Homo sapiens: one gene and its partners. The protein of the gene in region 1 interacts with the protein of each later gene in a pairwise test. Each region holds a gene or a part of one and is shown in the gene's direction. Other genes may lie near its edges.

Region 1 (7,755 bases):
ATTTCTATTTTCCTTATGTCTTAGTTTTAAAAACACCGTGCTGTTCAGGTATAGGCCTTGGCAAGTATCAGTTGGTGTTTCAATATGGTTGTTCCATCCAATCCCACAGCCAGCCACCCAAAAGGAAACTTCAAGAAACGAAGTTTTTTCGGGTAAGTAAAGCAATTTGGGGTTGCAAAACGTGTCTTTGGGTGTATACTTTTCACGTCACTGGGTTAATAGTACAGAAGTTTATAACAATATGGTGGAGAAAACGTGTCTTACAAGTAGTACAGAAGTTTACAACAATATGGTGGAGAAAACATGAGACAGAATTAGGAACTATACATTCTCTAATTCTATCACTGACCTAGGGAATTTGGGGCAAATCACTTCCCATCTTTAGCTGTCAGTTTTCTCAACTAAAATTAAAGTGCCAAACTGGGGCTCTTTCAGTTTGAGAATCAGTTTCTGACTTTAAGGGGCATTGGGAAGCCTTCACCAGACTCTGAAATTTTCCCTGGCCTCAGTTTTTCCACTTATGAAGTGGGGATGGTATAAATTGTAGGGACTGTGAATATGCTCAGTAAAATGAAGCACAAGACACATGCTTTAGGGCAGCAGTGGTAGGAAACCACTATTATGGTTTCCTCTGTAGTGGCCACACCCCCTAACACACCATTTCATTCCCATGGCAACGGCTCTGTGTGGGCTCCACTTGCCTCTAATTCTTTTGTAGCACTGCAGGTAGGAGGTTTCAGGGCTCTGTTGAGAGGGCTGACTGCTGGCTAGATTCTTTCCTTCTAGTACAGATTCTGAGTTTATTTTTAAAGTTCTGTGTCTACCTCAGTAAGCTCACAGTAAATGTTGGTAGAGTGTATAAGTCAGCATAAAAAAGAGATATGGCAGGGCGTGGTGGCTCACGCCTGTAATCCCAGCACTTTGGGAGGCCGAGGCGGGCGGATCACGAGGTCAGGAGATCGAGACCATCCTGGCTAACACGGTGAAACCCCCGTCTCTATTAAAAAAAATACAAAAAATTAGCCGGGCGTGGTGGCAGGCGCCTGTAGTCCCAGCTACTCGGGAGGCTGAGGCAGGAGAATGGCGTGAACCCGGGAGGCAGAGCTTGCAGTGAGCGGAGATCGCGCCACTGCATTCCAGCCTGGGCGAAAGAGCGAGACTCTGTCTCGAAATAAATAAATAAATAAATAAATAAATAAATAAATAAATAAATAAGAGATATGAGAGCTTTTGTTTATATTTAAAAACACTACTATGTAAATTACATGAGAAGTTTTTCCCACAGCAAATCTCATTTATGAATGGTTCCTGTTTAAGTTATCACACAAGTGCAACTTAGGCTGTTAATGTGGGAGTGTAAAAGTGCCAGCCTGGGAGTCAGGAGTCAAGCTACATCCCACTAGATAAATGTGTGACTTCCCACAAGTCCCGTCCCCTCTCTGGGCCGCAGTTTTCTCATCTGTACAAGGAAGTGTTTAGACTACTGTTATGGGTTGAATTGCTGGCCCGGTCACCCACACCATCCCCAAATTCATATGCTGAAATCCTAGCCCCCAGTACCCCAGAGTGAAACAGCGTCGCTGCAGATGTAAATAATTAAGTTCATACAGGTGTAGGGTGGGCCCCTAATGCATTATGACTGGTGTCCTTATAAAAAGGGAAAATTTGGACAGAAACACAGACGCAGGGAGAAGGCCGTTTGAAGAAAAATGCAGAGATCAGGGTGATGCTTCTACAAGCCAAGAAATGCCAAAGATTGTCAGCAAACCACCAGAAAACAGAAGAGGGGCCTGGAACAGTCCTTCCTTCACAACCTTCAGAAGGAACCAGCCTCGCCAACATCTCCATCTCAGACTTCTAACCTCCTGAACTGGGAGATGATTAACTTCTGTTGTTGGAGCCACTTAGTTTGTGGCATTTGTTATGGCAGCTCCGGCAAACTACAACAACAGTGGTTCCCAGTTTTTTTGGGGGGGGGTGGACAGAGTCTTACTCTGTCACCCAGGCTGGAGTGCAGTGCAGTGGCACGATCTTGGCTCACTGCAACCTCCGCCTCCTGAGTTCAAGCGATTTTCTGCCTCAGCCTCCTGAGTAGCTGGGATTACAGGCATGTGCCACCACGCCAAGCTGGTTCCCAATTTTTTCACCATCAAGAACTATTTTGCTCTTTTTCCTTTTGTGGACCCAATTTATTTATTTAACAAATATTTATTAGTTCCTACTATATACCAGGCCCTACTCTAGGTATTGGGGAACAATAAGTCACAATTCCGTTCCCCCACTTGTGTTCATTCTATGTTTTAAAAGATTTATTCTATTAAGTATACTGTGGCTTATTTTCATAATAATCTGTGAACAGTCTTTTCTTATGGGATAACTAGGATAACCTCATCATGATATAGTAAGTGTCAAAAATCAAAGAACGGTGATATTTTAAGTAGCTTTGGATGCCTAACAGTAAATAGATTCATTAGGTTTTTAAAAATATTAAAAACTGCCTTCAGAACCACCATTACTACATTTATGGGTCCCTAGGGATTGAAGGACCTCACTGCAGGCTGATTAGCTAGAGCAGGGGTCAGCAAACTCTTCTGTAAAAGGGTCAGATGGTAAGAATTTTGGGCATTGCAGATCATTTTGGGCGTTGCAGATCATACCGTCTCTGTCACAACTACTCAACATTGCTGTTGTAGATAATACAAACAAATGAGAATGGCTGAGCTCCAATAAAATTTTATCAATAGACGCTGAAATTTGAATTTCATATAAATTTCACGTGTCATGTTATTCTTTTGACGTTTTCAACAATTTAAAAAGGAAAAACCATTCTTACCTCAGGGCTGTAGAAAAACAGGTGGTAGGCTCCATGTATTAGGTCGGCTGGCTCAGTTTGCCTACCCCAGAGCTAGATTCTCTTTGTACCCCAAGTTCTTACATTAGGTGGTTCTTACTCACCTAAAGGTCTAGATGAGGCCCAGATAGAGATTACTATTATTTTTATTAAATATTTTACAGTTTGTTTTTTAGAGACGGAGTCTTGCTATGCTGCCCAAGCTGCTCTGGAACTACTGGCCTCACGCAATCCTCCTGCCTCAGCTTCCCAAAGTGTTGAGATTACAGGCGTGAGCCAGCACAGTCAGCCCTAGAGGGGGATTATTCAGTTTGAACTAAAACCTGGACTTCCTGCTGCCCAGTCCATTGCCCTTTCCACCACTCTAAGCTGCTGGTTTAGTCATGATTTCAGATGTGGTCTTTGTATCCATGTGGTGCAGAAAATAGCTGTGTGGTCAGCGGCCCTTTCCAGGCGCTGACCATGTTAAGGGCTGTCCTCTTATTAGCAGCCAGTGGCAACTTAATTTTGTCAAGCCTGACTCCAGACTTACCCACCCTTTCGTTTTTACCTCTCTCGGGTTGCGCAGGCCCGGGAGGCCCATCTGTTCTTACTATTTGAGTCCCTGTTGTCTCATTGGCGGCTTTCTGAGCAGCTGCAAAATATGTTTTTAACTTTTAAGTGGAAGTTGGGGGTCACTGGCATCGAGTCTGGAACAGTCATTCTCAGCAAGAGCTCTTTGAACTCTGACATTCTCTAGTTTTACGGACTCGGGTGAGTGTTTTAACTCCTCCCAGCTGCCAAGGGCTTGACTTCCTACCACTGCGGGCAGTAATTAATGAGGCATTTATTTGCTCAAGTAGTGGCGAAATAATGCGCACTGCTTTTTTGTGTTGTCGTCGGCGGAATACGCTCAGTTGCCTAGCACCACAGCCCTCTGGCTGGTAGTCCCTCTTCGCGGCTCATATGCTCGGGTCTCCTTGCGGCCCCCAGCTCAGCGACCGAGACGCAGACGAGGACCAGTGTTCACGCGAGTTCAGGGGGCGGCGTAGCCGCCGCCCGCCCAGGAGGACCATGTTGCGCGGCAAGTCCCGGCTCAACGTGGAGTGGCTGGGCTACTCGCCAGGCCTGCTCCTCGAGCACAGGCCCCTCCTGGCAGGGCGCACGCCGCGGAGCCACCGCCGGTAAGTCATGTGAGCGCCCGCCCCCGCGCCGGCAACAGCCCTGCGTCGCTGCGGCGCGCCGCGCCGCGCCGCGCCTGCGTACTGTGGCCCGCCGCCCGGCGCGAACGGGCACTTCCGGCGCGAACGGGCACTTCCGGCGCGAACCGCTACTTCCGGTGCGAACCGCCTCGGCCGTTCCCTCGCGGAGCTTACTGAGCGCGGCCGCCGAGCCCAGCTCCGCCGCCGAGCGCCTGTGCCGGCACGGCTACACCATGGAGCGCCCGGATAAGGCGGCGCTGAACGCACTGCAGCCTCCTGAGTTCAGGTAGCCCTGAGCGGGGCCTGGACCGCGAGGCGGACTGGCCCCAGCCTGGAGCAGGGCTTGAGGGAAGGCCCTAGCTGAATGGGTGGGCGTGAGGTCTGGACCCCGGGGACCTGGCCTCAGGGAAGGGGGCGGGGAAAGCAGGTTGGAGCCTGAGACGTCTAAACTCCCGGCCCCGAACTTTCGCTCGGGAACAAGGGATCCGGGGTCATGGGGAATAGGTCAGTGGGCCTTCAGCTCATGCTCCTATCCTAGCACTTTCTCTCGCTGTGTCTATATTGCAGTCTCTTTCATTACCGCAGGGTCAGCCTTCTGAGGACAGGAATGCAGTCTCCTTCATCTCCGTGTTCCCTAGGGGGCCTGCATAGTCGGGGCTTAATAAATGTTTGCTGTATGAATGAAGGAGTAGAAGGGAATAGTCCCCTGGTGTGAGATTGCTTCACTTGGGGAATCAGTAAGATAGAGGCTGGTGACTGAGTTGAAGGAATGTATGAGAGAGCAGGTGGTTCTGGCCCACCCCAGTAGGCAAGGGAGTGGTGAGGGAGTTAGCTATCATTCGTTAAGACCTACTGTATGCCAGGCTCAGTGCACGTGCTTTACATACATTGTCAGAATTCTTAATTTCTCTAACTGCTTGATTTCCCAATTTTGAAGAGGATGCAGTTGAGGGTAAGTGACTTGAAACTGAGGGTGAGTGATTACAGAATTAGGCGACAAAGTTAGTATGTAATTGAAGCTAACGTTTGACCAAGCTCACTGACTCCAAAGCCCACGATCTTTGGAGCTCTGTGATGCCTTCTCTTTCCGACAGGGTCATTGTGAGTTTTTTTTTTTTTTTTTTAACTTTTATTTTAGGTTCATGAGTACATGCGCAGGTTTGTTATATAGGTAAACTGCATGTCACGGGGGCTTGGCGTACAGGTAATTTTGTCACCCAGGTAATAAGCATAGTACCCGATAGGCGTTTTTTCTGATTCTCTCCCTCCTCCCAGCCTCCACCCTCAAGTAGACCGCACTGTCTGTTGTTCCTCTCCTAGTGTCCATCTGTTCTTGTTGTTTAGTTCCCACTTATGAGAACGTGCAGTATTTGGTTTTCTTTTCCTGTCTTAATTTGCTTAGAATAATGGCTTCCAGCTCCAGTCATGTTGCTGCAAAGGACATGATCTCATTCTTTTTTATGGCTGCATAGTGTTCCATGGTGTATATGTACCGCATTTTCTTTATCCAGCCTCAATGTGGGTTTTTTTTTAATTATTCATTTATGAGAATACCAACATATTTTTATTAGATACACTTACAGCATAGTCCTTCTAGACTGATTCTGGTTTCCTAATGGAATTTGCAGTGAAATCTTGACTGTGGGAGAAAGAATTCCTGTTGTCTTACTTGCTACAAAAGGGAATGTGGTAGGCTCTGTCTGCTCAATGTTGGCTGCAGAAGTTTGTATGAAGTGGGAAAACTAGGTGGTGTTATAAATGGAGGCAGATTAAGGTTCATCCTGAACTTTTTCCTTTGTGTGAGGACAACTTTAATTCCAGCCTTTCTCATTCCTCACTTCTAACAAATCTCTGCTCAGTAACACCCAAAGATACATAGGATAAATCAATTGAATAGCATCAGTTGCTTTGTCTTGGATAAGCCACTGATTTTACCCAAGGTGGCTTGCATCAGCAAAACCAACAGCTCTTGTGGCTGGAATCCAGGGAGAAAATGTCCTATAAACAGTAGAGGAAGTTTGCTAGTTTTCAAAAGTTTGTATGTACACTTTGACTTAATGCTTAGTCCCATATTAGTGAGGTCACAACACAGAAAAGTAGTCACATTTTTGAAGTTTGAGGTAAAGAGAGAAGTGAGAAGGAATTAGCCATAAATTATTAAGGTATGCTGTGTATAGATTGTGTGGGGGCTAGAAATTAATATGTAGAAAGGTTATATTTGGGTGGTGGGATTATAGGTGATTTTGTTTACTTTAAAACATTTTTATGGTGTTATATCATCTTTTCAATAATAAACTTTTTAAAAGCCAGACCAGATAATAGATACTCAAGAGAGGTCATGTAAAGAACAAAACAATCAGTTAACACTTCCTTTCTGTTCCTTTAACAAGTTAGATAATCTGAAAGTTGCATTCCTAAAACATACTTTTTTACTCACCATAGAAACACCAAAGTCAAGTGCTTTTTTTAGGGTGCACAAAAGAATTGGCCAATTAGTGACTCTTTGTATTTTTTGTAGATTCTCCACTGCAGACACTCATACTCTTCATGAGGATTACACAATAAATTTCTCTAAAAATTTACTAGTAGGAAACAGTTTAAGGGAGCTTATGTATATTAAATGAGAGTTGTATAGCTCAGTAATAACCAAAATGAGGCCTGCTAAAAGATGATCCATTTAAGTACCAAAAGAAAATATTAGAACTTTTTTTTTTACAGCAGTAAGCATTTAATTTCTCACACATGTGCAGAGCATGTGATCAAGAAATAGGCATGAGGTTAGTTATATTTAATATATATTTTACTCAATGTTTTTGTGGGTTTTTTGTTCAGGTTCTTTTTAAATAAATTTCATTGTGTATATTTGAGGTTCATAACATGATGTTATGGCATACATATAGTAAAATGATTACTATGGTGAAGCAGATTAATATATCTGTCATCTCACATACTTTTGTGTGTGTGTGACCAGAGGCAGCTAAAATCTTATTTACAAAAGTCCCTAATACCATGCAACTTTATTGCCTATAGTCCTCTTGTACATTAGATATCTCACTTGTTAATCCATATATCTACTGCTTTGTGTCCTTTGATGTATATCTTCCTATTTCCTCCCCTCCAGCCTCCCACCCCCACCGCCATGGTAACTACTGTTTTATTCTCTGTCCCTGTGTAGTTGACCGTTGACCTTTTTTTTTTTTTTTTAAAGATTCCACATATAAGTGAGCTCATGTAGTATTCGTCTTTCTGCGTTTGGCTTATTTTACTTAACATGTCTTCCAGGTCCATCCATGTTGTGGCAAATGGCAGATGTCCTCTTTTAAGGCTGAATAAAATATTCCCTTGTATATATACACTACGGTTTCTTTATTTTGTCTGTCTACATACACGTAGGTTGTTTTCAAATCTTGGCTATTGTGAATAATGCTGCAATGAACATGGAAGTGCAGATATTTTTACGAGGTAGTGATTTCATCTCCTTTGCTTATATTCCAGAAGAGAGATTGCTGGGCTGTGTGGTAGTTCTATTTTTAATTTCTTTAGGAACTGTTTTCCATAATGGCTGTACCAGTCTACATTTCCAGTCACAATGTAGTAGGGTTTCTTTTTCTCCACACTTTTACAAACATTTGTTATCACTTGCCTTTTTGATAATAGCTGTCCTTAGAAGTGTGAGGTTATATCTCATAGTGGTTTTGATTTGCATTTCCCTGATGATTTAGT
Region 2 (4,310 bases), on another chromosome or scaffold:
CGAGGCAGGTGGATCACTTGAGGCCAGGAGTTTGAGACCAGCCTGGCCAACATGGTGAAACCCTGTCTCTACTAAGAATACAAAAATTAGCCGGGTGTGGTGGCGCGTGCCTGTACTCCCAGCTACTTGGGAGGCTGAGGTGGGAGAGTCACTTGAACCTGGGAGGCGGAGGTTACAGTGAGCCGAGATCGTCCCACTGTACTCCAGCCTGGGTGACAGAGCGAGACTCTTTACCCCGCCAAAAAAAAAAAAAATTGGTTCTCATGGCTTAGATAGAATAACATAGTGGTGTGAAGGAAGCAAAAGTATGCGTGTTCCAAAGACTTCACCATGCCATTCCTTTAAGAAACAAAAGCTTCCTTGTGTGTTAAATAATTCACTACATAAAAATGGACCATAGGATTGGGTCTTTGGGGTTGGGGGTTGTCACTTGAGCCTCTGCATCCAGCTGCTCGGATGTGGTGTGCTCAGGCATAGCTGGCCTCCTCCTGTCACCTCCACAGCTGGCCACCACGGCACTTTACTTCACATACTCAGCCCTCGAGGAGGAAATGGAGCGCAACAAGGACCATCCAGCCTTTGCCCCTTTGTACTTCCCCATGGAGCTGCACCGGAAGGAGGCGCTGACCAAGGACATGGAGTATTTCTTTGGTGAAAACTGGGAGGAGCAGGTGCAGTGCCCCAAGGCTGCCCAGAAGTACGTGGAGCGGATCCACTACATAGGGCAGAACGAGCCGGAGCTACTGGTGGCCCATGCATACACCCGCTACATGGGGGATCTCTCGGGGGGCCAGGTGCTGAAGAAGGTGGCCCAGCGAGCACTGAAACTCCCCAGCACAGGGGAAGGGACCCAGTTCTACCTGTTTGAGAATGTGGACAATGCCCAGCAGTTCAAGCAGCTCTACCGGGCCAGGATGAACGCCCTGGACCTGAACATGAAGACCAAAGAGAGGATCGTGGAGGAGGCCAACAAGGCTTTTGAGTATAACATGCAGGTACTATTGGGGGCTGCCAGCTGCTAGGGCTGAAGAGGGAAACTTTGACAGTGGTAGCAGATCCATAGTGGCCCATGAAGGCACACATGGCATTAGGACAGATGAGCTGCAGGGTGCCGAGAGGAAGGTGGCCACCAGATTGGCCACCAGAGCTTGTGGGCCCAGTGGGTGGTTCCCAGCATGGAGGCCTGGTGTGATAGATGCCAGTGGGTAGTGTTTTGGGAAGGGTGAGTCCTCTCGCACATAGAGGGGTCTGGAAGAATGGAGCTGGCTTCCTCCCTCATTGCAGGATGCTGGTCTTGAAGAATGGTTAATTTTCTTTTCAAGTTTTGCTCTGAGAAGCCCTGCTTTATAAGTTAATAGAGAGCCAGTGCCACCAAGGAGAGTAAATAAGCTCTGTTTACAAGTAGCCTTTAGATGAGGCTGAACCTGGGGAAGCTTACTCTGTCCCCAGGTCCTGTCAGCTTCCACTGAGGCCTCCCAGGGCACTCAGGATGAGTATGCCCTGCCACAGTCTCATTCTCCCATGTTCCAGGTTTTCTGTTGCTTCTTGATAAAAAAATAACCAGCACCTAGAAATGGGGATGTACTCATGCCCTCCTGTCTGTGCTGTGGTAGTTTCAGTGGCTTGAGCCACCTCAGAGAAGGCTACATCTCTGGTCAGTTCCCAGGGGAGACCCAGCATTTGGCAGCCTTCTTGGGGTACCAATATCCACACCTCCCCAGAGCTCTTGCTAGGGAGGGAAGACCATCAGGCAGTGCAGCTGCCGCCCACCAGTGCTGCTTGCTGTGTAGTTGGCACACCTGAGCAAGCTCACCTGCTCCAGCTCACTCTCTCTGGAGGGCGTCCTCTAAAAGGAGAGTGTAGCCAGGCGCAGTAGCTCATGCCTGTAATCCCAGCACTTTGGGAGGCTGAGGCAGGGGCATTACTTGACCCCAGGAGTTGAAGACCAGCCTGGGCAACCAAGGTGAGACACCATCTCCCCACAAAATTTAAAAATTAGCCAGGTATGGTGGTACACACACGTAGGAGGATAAGGTGGGAGGACCACTTGAGCCTAGGAGTTTGAGGCTGCAGTGAGTTAGCCATGTTCATAACACTGCACTCTAGCCTGGGCAACAGAGACCTCATCTCAAAAGACATTTAAAAAAAAAAAAAAAGTATGGGCAGCCCAAAGATGGCTCAGTCGATCCTCTGCTCCTGCAGATATTCAATGAACTGGACCAGGCCGGCTCCACACTGGCCAGAGAGACCTTGGAGGATGGGTTCCCTGTACACGATGGGAAAGGAGACATGCGTAAATGCCCTTTCTACGCTGCTGAACAAGACAAAGGTAGGTCTGTGTGTCCTGAGCTCCCCTCCTGGGGCAGGTGTAGCAGGAGACTCCACTGATGCCATGTCTCCTATTGGTGCTGCCACACAGGTGCCCTGGAGGGCAGCAGCTGTCCCTTCCGAACAGCTATGGCTGTGCTGAGGAAGCCCAGCCTCCAGTTCATCCTGGCCGCTGGTGTGGCCCTAGCTGCTGGACTCTTGGCCTGGTACTACATGTGAAGCACCCATCATGCCACACCGGTACCCTCCTCCCGACTGACCACTGGCCTACCCCTTTCTCCAGCCCTGACTAAACTACCACCTCAGGTGACTTTTTAAAAAATGCTGGGTTTAAGAAAGGCAACCAATAAAAGCCAGATGCTAGAGCCTCTGCCTGACAGCATCCTCTCTATGGGCCATATTCCGCACTGGGCACAGGCCGTCACCCTGGGAGCAGTCGGCACAGTGCAGCAAGCCTGGCCCCCGACCCAGCTCTACTCCAGGCTTCCACACTTCTGGGCCCTAGGCTGCTTCCGGTAGTCCCTGTTTTTGCAGTACATGGGTGACTATCTCCCCTGTTGGAGGTGAGTGGCCTGTAAGTCCAAGCTGTGCGAGGGGGCCTTGCTGGATGCTGCTGTACAACTTCTGGGCCTCTCTTGGACCCTGGGAGTGAGGGTGGGTGTGGGTGGAAGCCTCAGAGGCCTTGGGAGCTCATCCCTCTCACCCAGAATCCCTCTAACCCCTTGGGTGCGGTTTGCTCAGCCCCAGCTTATCTCCTCCTCCGCGCTGTGTAAATGCTCCAGCACTCAATAAAGTGGGCTTTGCAAGCTACCTCCTTCCCTGCCTCCTGGCACCGGGTGGGTCAAGCCACCTCCCCATAGGAGAGTCCCTCAGAAGCAAGGGCATGTTATGTCTGTGTGGGGAGTGGACATCGTCCATCATGGCTCCCAGCAGCCACCTCCTGCTCTGGGTCTACTCTCCAGCACCTCTAGTCTCCAAAGCAAAGTCACTCTAACCGTCTTGCAAAGATCTTTAAAGTGTATCCAGCACTGCTATTTTTTAGCTCAGAAATACCTTAGAGGTTTCCTACTTAAAAGGTTTTTTTAAAATATATATATATATTTAAAAATAAGGGTTTTAAAAAAGCACATATTTGTATTTAAACAATTCATTCTCTAAAAGAGAAACATGAACTTAAATAATTTTATTAATAGGAATCTACTACCTGTAAAAGTTTTATTTCAAAAAGGGTTAAAAAGTAGGGAAACTCTTTAAACTACTGACCAAGACTGCCACCTTCATAATTCAGATGAGTTAGTGCAGAGATGGCCAGGGCCAGAGGTCGCCCAGAACCTGCGTGTGCAGACTGCGCTCTGTTAGTCTTCTGCCTGTCAGCCTCAGCCCAGTCTGTGTTGCTTAAGGGTGCGCCTCCCCAGGGCTGGATGATGCTGTGCTCAAGCCTGCGGGTAGGAGGGCTCCAGCTTGCAGATCCCATGCGTGGATGCCATATATAGATGGTTGAAACCAGCATCAGAGGAAGGAAGGTGACCTTACAGCCACTGCCGAGACCAACGTGTGCCCTGGCCCAGTCACAGCTGGAAATCCCAGGGCTGGTCTACACCCGACTCTGGTTTGGTTTAATTAGGTCCTTACGTGTTGGTGTTGTCCCAGGCAGTTGGCATGGCATCAGCACTGAGGGTGTGAGACCCTGAGGACTCAGCCTCCCGTCCTGCCAGTAGACTGCCTGCAGCCCCACCCTCTTTCCCTCAAAAAAGAAGGAAGCCAGGCAAGAGAGCAGAGGCCCAGGGCGGGGGAGTGAAAGGGCCAATTTAATGAGAAACTACAAACTGAGACTGGGCCACGATTCACAGTGACAGGAGGCCATGCAGTGGCAGTGCGAGACCAGGAAGGACAGTGGCAGGATACAGTGGTCCAGGTGAGCAAGTTCACAAACCATTCAGGAAATAAAGACAGGGCGAGGCTGGTGTCCACCAAGGCAGTTC
Region 3 (3,473 bases), on another chromosome or scaffold:
AAGTGAAAAGGTTTCCTCTTAGTCCTGGATTCATCTTGACAAGCCACAGTATTAGCAGGAAAAAAAAAAGATGCTGATTATCAGTTATAAACAGTGAGTGAGAGCCAAGATCCCACAATGACCTTTTGTCCCCTTGTCACTCCAGTGGTCATAAGTGAATGAGGCAATGAATGGGTCACACTTTTGACCCAATTTATTATTTTCTTTTATAAACTCTTCTTTTTTAATGCAAAGGCCCCCATGTGGCTAGTAAGTGGCAGAGCTGGGACCCTCTGCTGGCCTGCCCTTTCATGGTGGCTGGAACTGCAGTGTGGGAGTGATAGGGGCTGAGGCGGGAAAGGTGGTTGGGGCCAGTTGATGCAGAGTCTTCGAAGCTGGGTGAAGAACCCTGGGCTGGGTGCACTGGCTCAACGCCTGTAATCCCAGCACTTTGGGAGGCCGAGGTGGGAGGATCACCTGAGGTCAGGAGTTCGAGACCAGCCTGGCCAACATGGCGAAACCCCGTCTCTACTAAAAATACAAAAATTAGCCAGTTGTGGTGGCGCATGCCTGTGATCCCAGCTACTTGGGAGACTGAGGCAGGAGAATCACTTGAACCTGGGAGGCAGAAGTTGCAGCAAGCCGAGATCATTCCACTGCATTCCAGCCTGGGCAACAGAGCAAGACTCTGTCTCCAAAAAAAAAAAAAAAAAAAAAAAGAACCTAGGACCTTCAGGGCCAGGGCAGCCCCTGAAGATTTATTTTTATTTTTTAGAGACAGGGTCTTGCTCTGGTCATTGAGGTGGAGTGTAGTAGCATCATCATAGCTCACTGTAGCCTTCCTCTGGGCTCAAGTGATCCTCCTGCCTCAGCCTCTCAAAGTGCTGGGATTACAGGCATAAGCCACTGTACCTGACCGATTTTTTTTTTTTTTTTTTTAAGACAGGGTCTCGCTCTGTTGCCCAGGCTGGAGTGCAGTGGTGCAATTTTGGCTCACTGCAACCTCCACCTCCTGAGCTCAAGATCCTCCTGCCTCAGCCTCCTGAGTAGCTGGGACTAAAGGCACGTGCCACCACTCCCAGCTAATATTTGTATTGTGTAGAGGCAGGGTTTTATCACGTTGCCCGGGCAGGTCTCAAACTCCTGGGCTCAAGCGATCCGCCCTCCCAAAGTGCTGGGATTACAGGCATGAGCCACCACACCCAGCCTTTGTAATGTTTTTTGAGCCACTTAGTCTTCATGCTTATTGATCATTTAGATATCCCAAGCATATCATTGTTTCAGCTCGTGGGAGGCAGTTTGAAGTGGCTGATAACAGACTTATTTATTTTAGTTTAGTTTTTTATATTTACTGAGCATTTCCCATTTAAGGGCTTTATGTATGCCGTCTTTTAAAATGTTTACAACAACCCGTGATTAGGTTTTATTATTACCCAACTCTCCAGGTGAGGAAACTCAGGCTTACGGAGGTTAAGTGCCTCTCATGAGCCCAGGTCACAGCTACTCAGGGGTGGACACAGGTCACAAACCCAGGTGGTCTGACTCCAACTCTTGACTGTCATGTTTCAGATCAGGAGCCACTAGCCCTGCCCGAGGGGTCCGGGTAGGCTTCTTGGAGGATCGGCCATAGGGGTCATACTGGGGTGGCTGGAGGGGGTTGTGTCCTTCTGGGTGCTCATGGCGGTTGTCCTGTTGCAGGTGCCCTGCTGCAGGAGGAGAGGCTGGACGCGGTGACCCTGCTTTACGCCACCTCGCTGCCCAGCTTCTGCCTGCTGGCGGGTGCAGCCCTGGTGCTGGAGGCTGGCGTTGCCCCACCGCCCACTGCTGGCGACTCTCGCCTCTGGGCCTGCATCCTGCTCAGCTGCCTCCTGTCTGTTCTCTATAACCTGGCCAGCTTCTCCCTGCTGGCCCTCACCTCTGCCCTCACCGTCCACGTCCTGGGCAACCTCACCGTGGTGGGCAACCTCATCCTGTCCCGGCTGTTGTTTGGCAGCCGCCTCAGTGCCCTCAGCTACGTGGGCATCGCACTCACTCTTTCAGGAATGTTCCTTTACCACAACTGCGAGTTCGTGGCCTCCTGGGCTGCCCGTCGGGGGCTGTGGCGGAGGGACCAGCCCAGCAAGGGTCTTTGAGACCTGGGGGATCTCAGGAGCCACCTGGGATGGCCCTGGCCTGAATCCAGCCTCCGCTGTGGCCATAGAAGGAATGGAGAACAGGGCTGGGCATGGTGGCTCACGCCTATAATCCCAGCACTTCCAGAGTCCGAGGTGGGTGGATCACCTGAGGCCAGGAGTTCGAGACCAGCCTGGCTAACATGGCAAAACCTCATCTCTACTAAAAATAGAAAAATTAGCTGGGCATGGTGGCGCGTGCCTATAGTCCCAGCTACATGGGAGGCTAAGGTGGGAGGATCACTTGAGCCCTGGAGATCGAGGCTGCAGTAAGCCAAGATCGCATGCTACTGCACTCCAGCCTGGGAGACAGAGCGAGACGCTGTCTCAATTAAAAAAAAAAAAAAGTGGAGAACTGGCAGTGACCTCTACTGGGGGCCATGGCAGGGAGGGGAGCCTTCTGGAAGGGCTGCCTTGGAGATTGGAATGGGGACTCCCAGGGAGACCTGCGTTCCATCCCTGCCTGCCTCACCCCTGCCACAGACTCTGCACACCACTGGATGGTGGGTCCAAGCCTGGCACAGTCCCTGTGCTTGTCAGAGTCATTATTATGATTAATATCAATTACGATGCCAAAAATTGCTGGGCAAACTTTGAAGACCTCAACTTGTTACAATGACGATGATGATGATTCTTGGCGGTTACACAATCCTTCCTCCTGGGGGGGAGGCAGCTAGGAGGCCCAGCAGGGGGGCTTCTATGCTGCTGGGCTCCCCTAGGGAGTTGGGGTAGTCTGTGCCAACTCCAGGCAGCTGCTGTGGCCTCACCCCTGGGCCCCCCAATTTTGGGTCATCCATCCTCAAATACACTATTTTTGCTTGTATGCCTGTGTCATTTGTTGGTTGTACAGAGGGGATATAGGGAGAGTGGTAGGCTTCCCACACAGAAACTAGGACATCCTCCCTTACCCATCGCAGTCTGTCTGGCCCCCCACCCCGAGCCCAGTGCCATTCCCTCAAATCCCTCCACTGGCTGGGCTACCATTGCCCATCTTCTGGACAGTGGCAGTGGCCTCCCCCTTGCTCTGCCTGGCCCCTCTACTCCATCTTACACACAGACCCCTTCACCCAGAGGGATCTCACTAAAACGTGCACATTCTGATGTTCCTCACTGCTCTTGGGACAAAGTCAGAATTTCCTACCCCAGACCCCAACTCACTCAGGACGTGGCACCTGCAGCCTCACCCAGCTTGTCTCCCTTCCCCTGGGCTCTGCCTTCCAGCCTCACCGACTTCTTTCAGTTCCCCGTGATACCAGGCCTGCTCACTGAAACCTTTGTACATGCTGTTCCCTCCGTCCAGTCCCCGCTTCCTACAACAACCTC
Region 4 (7,860 bases), on another chromosome or scaffold:
TTTTTTTTTGAGAGACGGTGTCTCGCTCTATTGCCCAGGCTGGAGTGCAGTGGCCTGATCTTGGCTCACTGTGACCTCTGCCTCCCGAGTTCAAGCAATTCTTCTGCCTCAGCCTCCTGAGTAGCTGGGATTACAGGCGCCCACCATCACGCCTGGCTAATTTTTGTATTTTTACTAGAGACAGAGTTTCGCTGTGTTGGCCAGGCTGGTCTCTAACACTGGCCTCATGTGATTCACCCACCTTGGCTTCCCAAAGTGCTGGGATTACAGGTGTGAGCAACCACGCCCAGCCAATTGCATCAGTTACACACTGGTGGAATGTTCTCTCTCAGTCAGCAATAGTCAAGTGGGGGCGAGTGGGGAAGGGATAAATAGGGCCTATCTGAGCAGGTGGAGCTGAACATAGTTTACAAAAGCATATTTAACATTATACTGTATTGTATATTTTTAATCAAAAAATATGATTGCTTTTGTAATACAGGGTCATTTTTTATCTAAGGATAATTGGTACCAGAAAAAATCTACAGAAAGAAAACCTGCTGAAGGTGGACCAAAATTTAGAAGGTTTTGAGTGGGATGCTGTCTAAAAATAAAATAAAATAAAATGCAAGAAAAACCGTAAATTAAACAAAATTGAGGTCAAAAATTAAAACCAAAATCGAGGTTGTAATTGCAGGTGTGTGCTAATCCTTGATTATATAGTTACAGTTATATGCCATTTCTTGTTATTGAATTGGGAGAGGTTTAACTTTTCCAATGAAATTGTCAGACAACATGAAACAGTATCTTTCCCTTCACATTTGACTTTTGTACCAATCATAAAGAGGGTTTTTCCAAACATATTTGAGGTATTCAGATCATTCTCTCTCTTTTTTAAAAATACATTTTTGGCCCAGTGCGGCGGCTCACGCCTGGAATCCCAGCGCTTTGGGAGGCCGAGGTGGGCAGATCATGAGGTCAGGAGTTCGAGACCAGCTTGACCAACATGGTGAAACCCCTCTCTACTAAAAATACAAAAATTAGCCGGGTGTGGTGGCACACACCTGTAATCCCAGCTACTCGGGAGGCTGAGGCAGGAGAATCGCTTGAGCCCGGGAGGCAGAGGTTGCAGTGAGCCGAGATTGCTGCACTCCAGCCTGGGTGACAGAGTGAGACTCCACCTTAAAAACAAAAAAAAAATATTTTTATTTTTAAAAAATTAAAAAATTTTGGAAATGAGGTCCTTCTCTGTTGCCCAGTCTGGAGTACAGTCATAGCTTACTGCAGCCTCAGGAACTCCTGGGCTCAAGCGATCCTCTCACCTCAGCTTCCCAAGTAGTTGGGACTACAGCACACTCCACCGTGCCTGGCTAAATCATTCTCTTTTGAAACCCCTGCTAAGTTGTCATTCCCATGGGTTTTCTCTTTGTCTCTTGTTCACTGGTCTGCCTCTGCCAGATCTGTATTTGTGGCTTTGCTTCTGATTTGAGCAATTTGCCAGCATCATCTTCCCTGCAAGCAGCTGTGTATGTAACAGTCAGCTGTCAGGAAGACACCGACTGGCAAAAACACAGGCACAGGGAGGCCAGTGTAAGCAGGGAGGGCTGTATGAGTGGTGGGCAGTGATCCAGGGCTTGGCTATTTCACGAATACTTTATGTTATGATGGCTTTTGCTTTCCTGAGCCACCAAGCCTACTCAGATTATAAACACTGAGTACAGAGGAGCCCTTGTATAAAGTATGGTAAGTTATGCCAGACACACTCAGCTTAGCATGGGTTTAAAGCTGGGAATGGCCATCCACAATGTAGCATTACAGGCCAGAGCAGAGAAAGCTGTCAATTTATACTTTGGGGCTATGTGCAGTAGCTCACACCTATAATCCCAGCACTTCGGGGGCCGAGGCAGGAGGACTGCTTGAGCCCAGGAGTTTAAGACCATCCTGGGCAACAAAGCAAAACCTCATCTATTAAAAAAAAAAAAAATTAGCTGGGGGCATGCTGATGTGTGCCTGTAGTCTCAACTACTTGGGAGGCCAAGGCAGGAGGGCAGTGGGCTCGGGAGGTCAAGGCTGCAGTGAGCCGTGATCATGTGACTGCACCTGGCCTAGGAGACAGAACGAGACCCTGCCTCTTTTCTTTTGTTTTTTTTTTTTTTTGAGACAGAGTCTCACTCTGTCACCCAGGCTGGAGTGCAGTGGCGCAATCTCGGCTCACTGCAAGCTCCACCTCCCGGGTTCACGCCATTCTCCTGCCTCAGCCTCTCCGAGTAGCTGGGACTACAGGCACCCGCCACCACGCCTGGCTCATTTTTTATATTTTTAGTAGAGATGGGGTTTCTCCGTGTTAGCCAGGACGGTCTCGATCACCTGACCCTCATGATCCGCCGGTCTCAGCCTCCCAAAGTGCTGGGATTACAGGCGTGAGGCACCGTGCCCAGCCGACCCTGTCTCAAAAAAAAAACAAAAAAAACAAAAAAAACCAACTTTGGCAGTTGAAGCAGTAGTTGTGCTTGCTTGGGTCATCATGCTTGTCACACCATACAGTGAGTATCTGTTTGCTTGTCTTTTTCCCAAATGAATGTGAGGTGGTTGAGGAGAAGTACTGCCCCTCATTCATCTCTGGATCCCAGGGTCCTGCAGAACCCCCTTGCAAACTGTTTCAAAATGTAATGGATTCTTTAAAGTGGCAGGTGTGAAATGGCGGAGCAGGTGCTCATTAAGACCTTCAGCATAAAGGTGCTATTAGAAAACCACCCTGTCAGTTCATGTACTCTGTGTTTTGATTTTTGAGTATTTCCAGAGATTAGCACAATTGGTTTGAGCTGGCTACATAAGAGTTCTGAAGTATGAGTTTGATTCTTAGAGAGACGCAGTTAGCTTTTTTATAGTCTATCAACAACTGTCAACATTTCTTTTTTTTTTTGAGACGGAGTCTTACTCTCATTGCCCAGGCTGGAGTGCAGTGGCGTGATCTTGGCTCACTGCAACCTCTGCCTCCTAGATTCAAGTGATTTTCCTGCCTCAGACTCCCGAGTAGCTGGGATTACAGGCACTCGCCATCATGTCCAGCTAATTTTTGTATTTTTAGTAGAGACAGGGTTTTAACATGTTGGCCAGGCTGGTCTCGAACTCCTGACCTCAAGTGACCCACCCGCCTCGGCCTCTCAAAGTGTTGGGATTACAGATGTGAGCCACCACGCCCGGTCAACTGTCACATTTCTAACTCCAGGAAGCTGTTCACCAACTTTCCGTTATCACCCACAAGTTAGCGCAGGTGAAGACTGTAGATCCGCCGTGTCAGTCAGGGCTCTGCTAATCCATCATGTTTGTGTCATTCATGATTGGTCTGTAGTATGGAAAGAACAACAAACCTTGAAGAAATATTTTGAAAGATTGGCTTTTTGTGTGTGTGTGTGTGTTTTTTTTTTTTTTTCTTGAGAGAAGGTCTTACTCTGTCACCCAGGCTGGAGTATAGTGGTACTATCACGGCTCACTGCAACCTCCACTTCCCAGGCTCAGGTGATCTTCGCTCCTCCGCCTCCTGGGTAGCTGGAACCACAGGCATGCGCCACCACCATGCCTGGCTAATTTTTTGTATTTTTAGTAGAGACGGGGTTTCTCCATGTTGCCCAGGCTGGTCTTGAACTCCTGGGCTCAAGTGATCCCCCCACCTCGGCCTCCTAAAGTGCTATGATTACAGGTGTGAACCACTGTGCCTGGCCACGATTTTTTATTTCCTACAAAGTATATTAACTCAGCAGCTGAAGGGCCAGAAATGGTTGTTCAAGATACTGGAGATGAGTAAGTCATGGTTCTCCGGGGATGGTACCAATTAATACACAGGCCATAGCAGTACAGCCTTAGAGGCAACTGGACTGAAGAGGGGCCTTGTGTGACCAGCTGGGAAGTTTGGATGCCTCCCTGAAGTCCAGCCATTGTGGAGCTGTGCACAGAGGAGTGCCATGTTCACAGCCCCTTGGGCTGACGGGGGCAGAGTGACAGCAACAGAGCCTCCCCGTGGCGACCTCCAGGGTCCGGTCAAGGGGTATCAGGACCTGAGCAAGAACAGTTGCTGGGGAACCAGGAGGCGGAAGTGGCAGGAGGTGGGATGGGCTCTGAAGGCCGTGCCTGGTGGCCTTCTCCCGTGTGCCTTTGTTGGGGGGAAGTGCTGTGAATTGAACTGACTTATGGCTTGGTGGAGTGGACACACTCACACGTGAACCTTCCAATTCCAGCAATCAGGCCTCATGGAGGAAAGCTAATCTCACCTGCAAAATTGCAATCGACAATCTAGAGAAAGCAGAACTTCTTCAGGGAGGAGATCTCTTAAGGCAAAGGTACCTATTCTTTTATTTTTCTGGGCTCCGATAATAATAGATAACAATTGGCAAGGTGTAGGAAACCCCCTCTTGTTTTCAGCTTGGTGCTTAATTTAATTACATAAGTAATTTTTTTAAGTTTGAAAAAAATGCATACTTATTTGTAGTAAATTGGTAAAATAAAGTATGAATTACAAAATTAAAATATTGAATTTTTTTTTTTTTCTGAGATGAAGTCTCACTCTTGTAGCCCAGGCTGGAGTGCAGTGGTGCCCTCTTGGCTCACCGCAACCTCCGCCTCCTGGGTTCAAGTGATTCTCCTGCCTCAGCCTCCAAAGTATCTGGGATTACAGTTGCGTGCCACTGCACCCAGCTAATTTTTTGTATTTTTAGTAGAGACGGGGTTTAACCACGTTGGCCAGGCTGGTCTTGAACTCCTGACTTCTGGTGATCCACCCACCCCAGCCTCCCAAAGTGCTAGGATTATAGGCGTGAGCCACCATGCCCGGCCGAAAATATCAAATCTTATTACTCATGAACATTTTGGTATATTCTCTCCCTCATTTTTATTTCTACATTTCTTACAAAGTCAAAATTGTACCATACATAAAATTTCATATTCTGCTGTTTCAGCACAAAAGTTGTTCATTAAAAAAAAAAAAAAAGCTTTTTAAGCCTAATTCTAACAGTACATAGTATGTAGATTGTATGTTAATACAATTCCCTGTGTGTGTTTGCATTTCTAGTGTTTAAGTAGTGTAAGTAATACACCAGGGCATGTCTTAGAACATAAGGCTTTATCCACATTTTGGATGTTTCCTTTGGAGGGATTTCCAGGGATGAGATGATTGAGTCAAAGGAATGAACATTACCAAGGCTCTTCAATTGGCAAATTGCTTTACAGAAGGCAGCACTGGTTTATGTTCCTACTAGCAGTCCACAGGGGCGTGGGTCTCAGCACACCCTTTCCAGCATTGAATGTGATCATTTAAAATATGTATACTAATTGGATAGGTAAAACATGAGATCTCATTTGGATGTGGGGCCTTCTTGCAGGGAGGCTTTTGTTGACATTCCTCCCCTTTCTCTTCCTCTGAACTTTTAGGAAAACCACCAAAGAGAGCCTGGCCCAGACATCCAGTACCATCACTGAGAGCCTCATGGGGATCAGCAGGATGATGGCCCAGCAGGTCCAGCAGAGCGAGGAGGCCATGCAGTCTCTAGGTAAAGCTGGGCCTGGAGTAGGAAGCTTCTCCCAGAGACGCTGCTCTAGGGCCCTTGCCCTGGCACCTCCACTCTGGGCTCCTCCACCACAGCCCACACGATGTTCACTGACTTGGGTGGCTTCTCCCTCATGAGATGACTTGACACCATGGTCTTATCCAGTGTGGGATGTGCTGCTCCTATTTCTCTTTTTTTTTTTTGAGATGGAGTTTCGCTCTTGTTGCCCAGGTTGGAGTGCAATGGTGCGATCTCAGCTCACCGCAACCTCTGCCTCCTGGTTTCAAGCGATTCTCCTGCCTTAGCCTCCCAAGTAGCTGGGATTACCGGCCTGCACCACCACACCCGGCTAATTTTGTATTTTTAGTAGAGACGGGGTTTCTCCATGTTGGTCAGGCTGGTCTTGAACTCCCAACCTCAGGTGATCCGCCTGCCTCAGCCTCCCAAAGTGCTGGGATTATAGGCGTGAGATGCCACGCCCGGCCCGTATTTCTGTTTACTAGAAGACCCCACACCCCCATCGATGTTTCCTCAGGGGGAGCATTCCCATGTGTTCATGTGAAAGGCAGAGGTCCCAGCCCCTCTCCTAGAGAGGGTGTCGGCAGGGCTGGGTGAGGGGCCTGGAGTCTGATTTTCAGTGAGGGCTCTGGGGACCCATATGGCCAGGCAAGTTTGGGAATGGTTGCTCCAAGAGATGTTTGGCGAATCAGCTGCTGGTAGGACTGCTAGGACCTCAGTTTACAATTATACTCCCCAACGTTATTTTTCCTATGAGTTCCTTTTAAAAGATGTGAATCAGAGGCTACAGGAGAGACTGCTTGAGACCATCTGGTTTCCTCCAATAGTTTTCCCAGAGTGTCTCCTCTGTGATGGAGAAGAGTATCAGCCCTCTCCAGGGTCCTTCAGTATAAGACAACAGAAAAAGGGCGTTTACTCCTTGAAACGCTTTTGGAAAATTGCACACGTGGACAAAAGGAGAAAGCATGGTATCCTGAATCCCCTGAGCCCTGAGTCCATTACCCCAGCCAGTCTCGTTTCAGTTCTACCCTCAGCCCATCCCCCATCTGGATTATTTTGAAGCAAATCCCAGACATCATCCATAAATATCTCAGTACATCTCTCTAAAAGATAAGGGACTCTTTGGGGAAAAAGCAGAAGCAACCCCATAACTACAATACCATGATCACCCCTAGAAATTATAATTTTGGACCACTGTTTTTTCAGTGCACCAAATAGGCAGAAGCAAAAGGAAAGCAAGCAGGTGACCCCAAGGTCACTCCTTGAGTTTGCAGCTTACCTGAACATCTGGGCTCGGAACCAGCCAGGGGCTTCCTCTCAGCGTGTGCTGTGGGAGAGGCCTTGGAGAGAGAGGGAGCAAGGCGACAACTTGGCCTCTGAGCCCAGGGCTTTTATGCTCTGGTGTGGCGACAGCATACCCCCCGCTAACAGTGGGAAGGAAACACAAATGCTGGTGGCTTCTGGGGTGTTGAGAGGGTCCCGGTGTTCTTGGGGCCCATTTTGTACAAGCGATAACTATTGAAGAAAAGAGAAGAATACAGTTCTTAACCCTTTCCTTATGCCTCACAAATTCAGCTTGATTTAAAAGCCTACTAGGACCATAATTTTAAAACAAAAAGCTTATTAGGAATATGGTGTCTGGAATTTGCTCCACAATTGCAGGAGTAGTTGCAGTTGGGGGGAGGGGGAGCAGGATTTCAGAGGTTGGTGGTTCTTGGTTATGGGTGGTGGACACATGGCATTTCATGATATTATGCTGTCTGCTCTGTGATGGTTCAAAATTCTCCGTAATAATAAAGTTTAAAAAGAAAGGCCTATTAGATTTTTACTTAGCAAGATCTCAGGGTTTTGAAATCGCAGCAGGCAGGCGTGGAGAAAGCAGGCGGAGAGGGATTCCTGTTCTGTGAGTGTTTGTTTTTCTCCTTTTATCTGTCATTTTCAAAACGCTGCTGTGTTTCCTCTGATAATTTATCCTATTTACTTATTAGCTTTTAATTTTTAAAAAGGTAACACATACAGCATAGAGAAGGATAAGAAAACTCTAGCCCAGGACTGCCATAGAAACGCAACAGCAGCCACGTATGTAACTTTAAATTTTCCAGTAGGCACATGTTAAAAAGTAAAAAGAAACATAAGAAATTAATTTTAGTAAGATGTTTATTTAACCCATTATGTAAAATATTATAATTTCAATGTAAAACTAATATTAAAAACTATTGAGATATTTTACATTCCTTTTTCTTAGATTAAGTCTTTGAAACATCGTGTGGATTTTGGCCAGGCGCGGTGGCTCATGCCGGTAATCCCAGCACTTTGGGAGGCC

Evidence for each region.
Region 2: the proteins of VMA21 (region 1) and HMOX2 interact in binary tests that used the Homo sapiens proteins (3 or more experiments, as listed by UniProt).
Region 3: the proteins of VMA21 (region 1) and SLC35E4 interact in binary tests that used the Homo sapiens proteins (3 or more experiments, as listed by UniProt).
Region 4: the proteins of VMA21 (region 1) and BNIP1 interact in binary tests that used the Homo sapiens proteins (3 or more experiments, as listed by UniProt).

What each region holds. Positions count from the first base shown.
Region 1 is NC_000023.11:151,393,044-151,400,798, forward strand, and holds the start of VMA21 (vacuolar ATPase assembly integral membrane protein VMA21), read left to right. Parts: upstream 1-4,162; 5' UTR 4,163-4,265; coding exon 4,266-4,318; intron 4,319-7,755. UniProt on the Homo sapiens protein: Required for the assembly of the V0 complex of the vacuolar ATPase (V-ATPase) in the endoplasmic reticulum.
Region 2 is NC_000016.10:4,507,210-4,511,519, forward strand, and holds the end of HMOX2 (heme oxygenase 2), read left to right. Parts: intron 1-503; coding exon 504-995; intron 996-2,202; coding exon 2,203-2,329; intron 2,330-2,419; coding exon 2,420-2,547; 3' UTR 2,548-3,138; downstream 3,139-4,310.
Region 3 is NC_000022.11:30,644,921-30,648,393, forward strand, and holds the end of SLC35E4 (solute carrier family 35 member E4), read left to right. Parts: intron 1-1,677; coding exon 1,678-2,111; 3' UTR 2,112-2,973; downstream 2,974-3,473. UniProt on the Homo sapiens protein: Putative transporter.
Region 4 is NC_000005.10:173,154,530-173,162,389, forward strand, and holds part of BNIP1 (vesicle transport protein SEC20), read left to right. Parts: intron 1-4,214; coding exon 4,215-4,316; intron 4,317-5,403; coding exon 5,404-5,522; intron 5,523-7,543; coding exon of another isoform or gene 7,544-7,616; intron 7,617-7,782; coding exon of another isoform or gene 7,783-7,795; exon of another isoform or gene 7,796-7,831; intron 7,832-7,860. UniProt on the Homo sapiens protein: As part of a SNARE complex may be involved in endoplasmic reticulum membranes fusion and be required for the maintenance of endoplasmic reticulum organization. Also plays a role in apoptosis.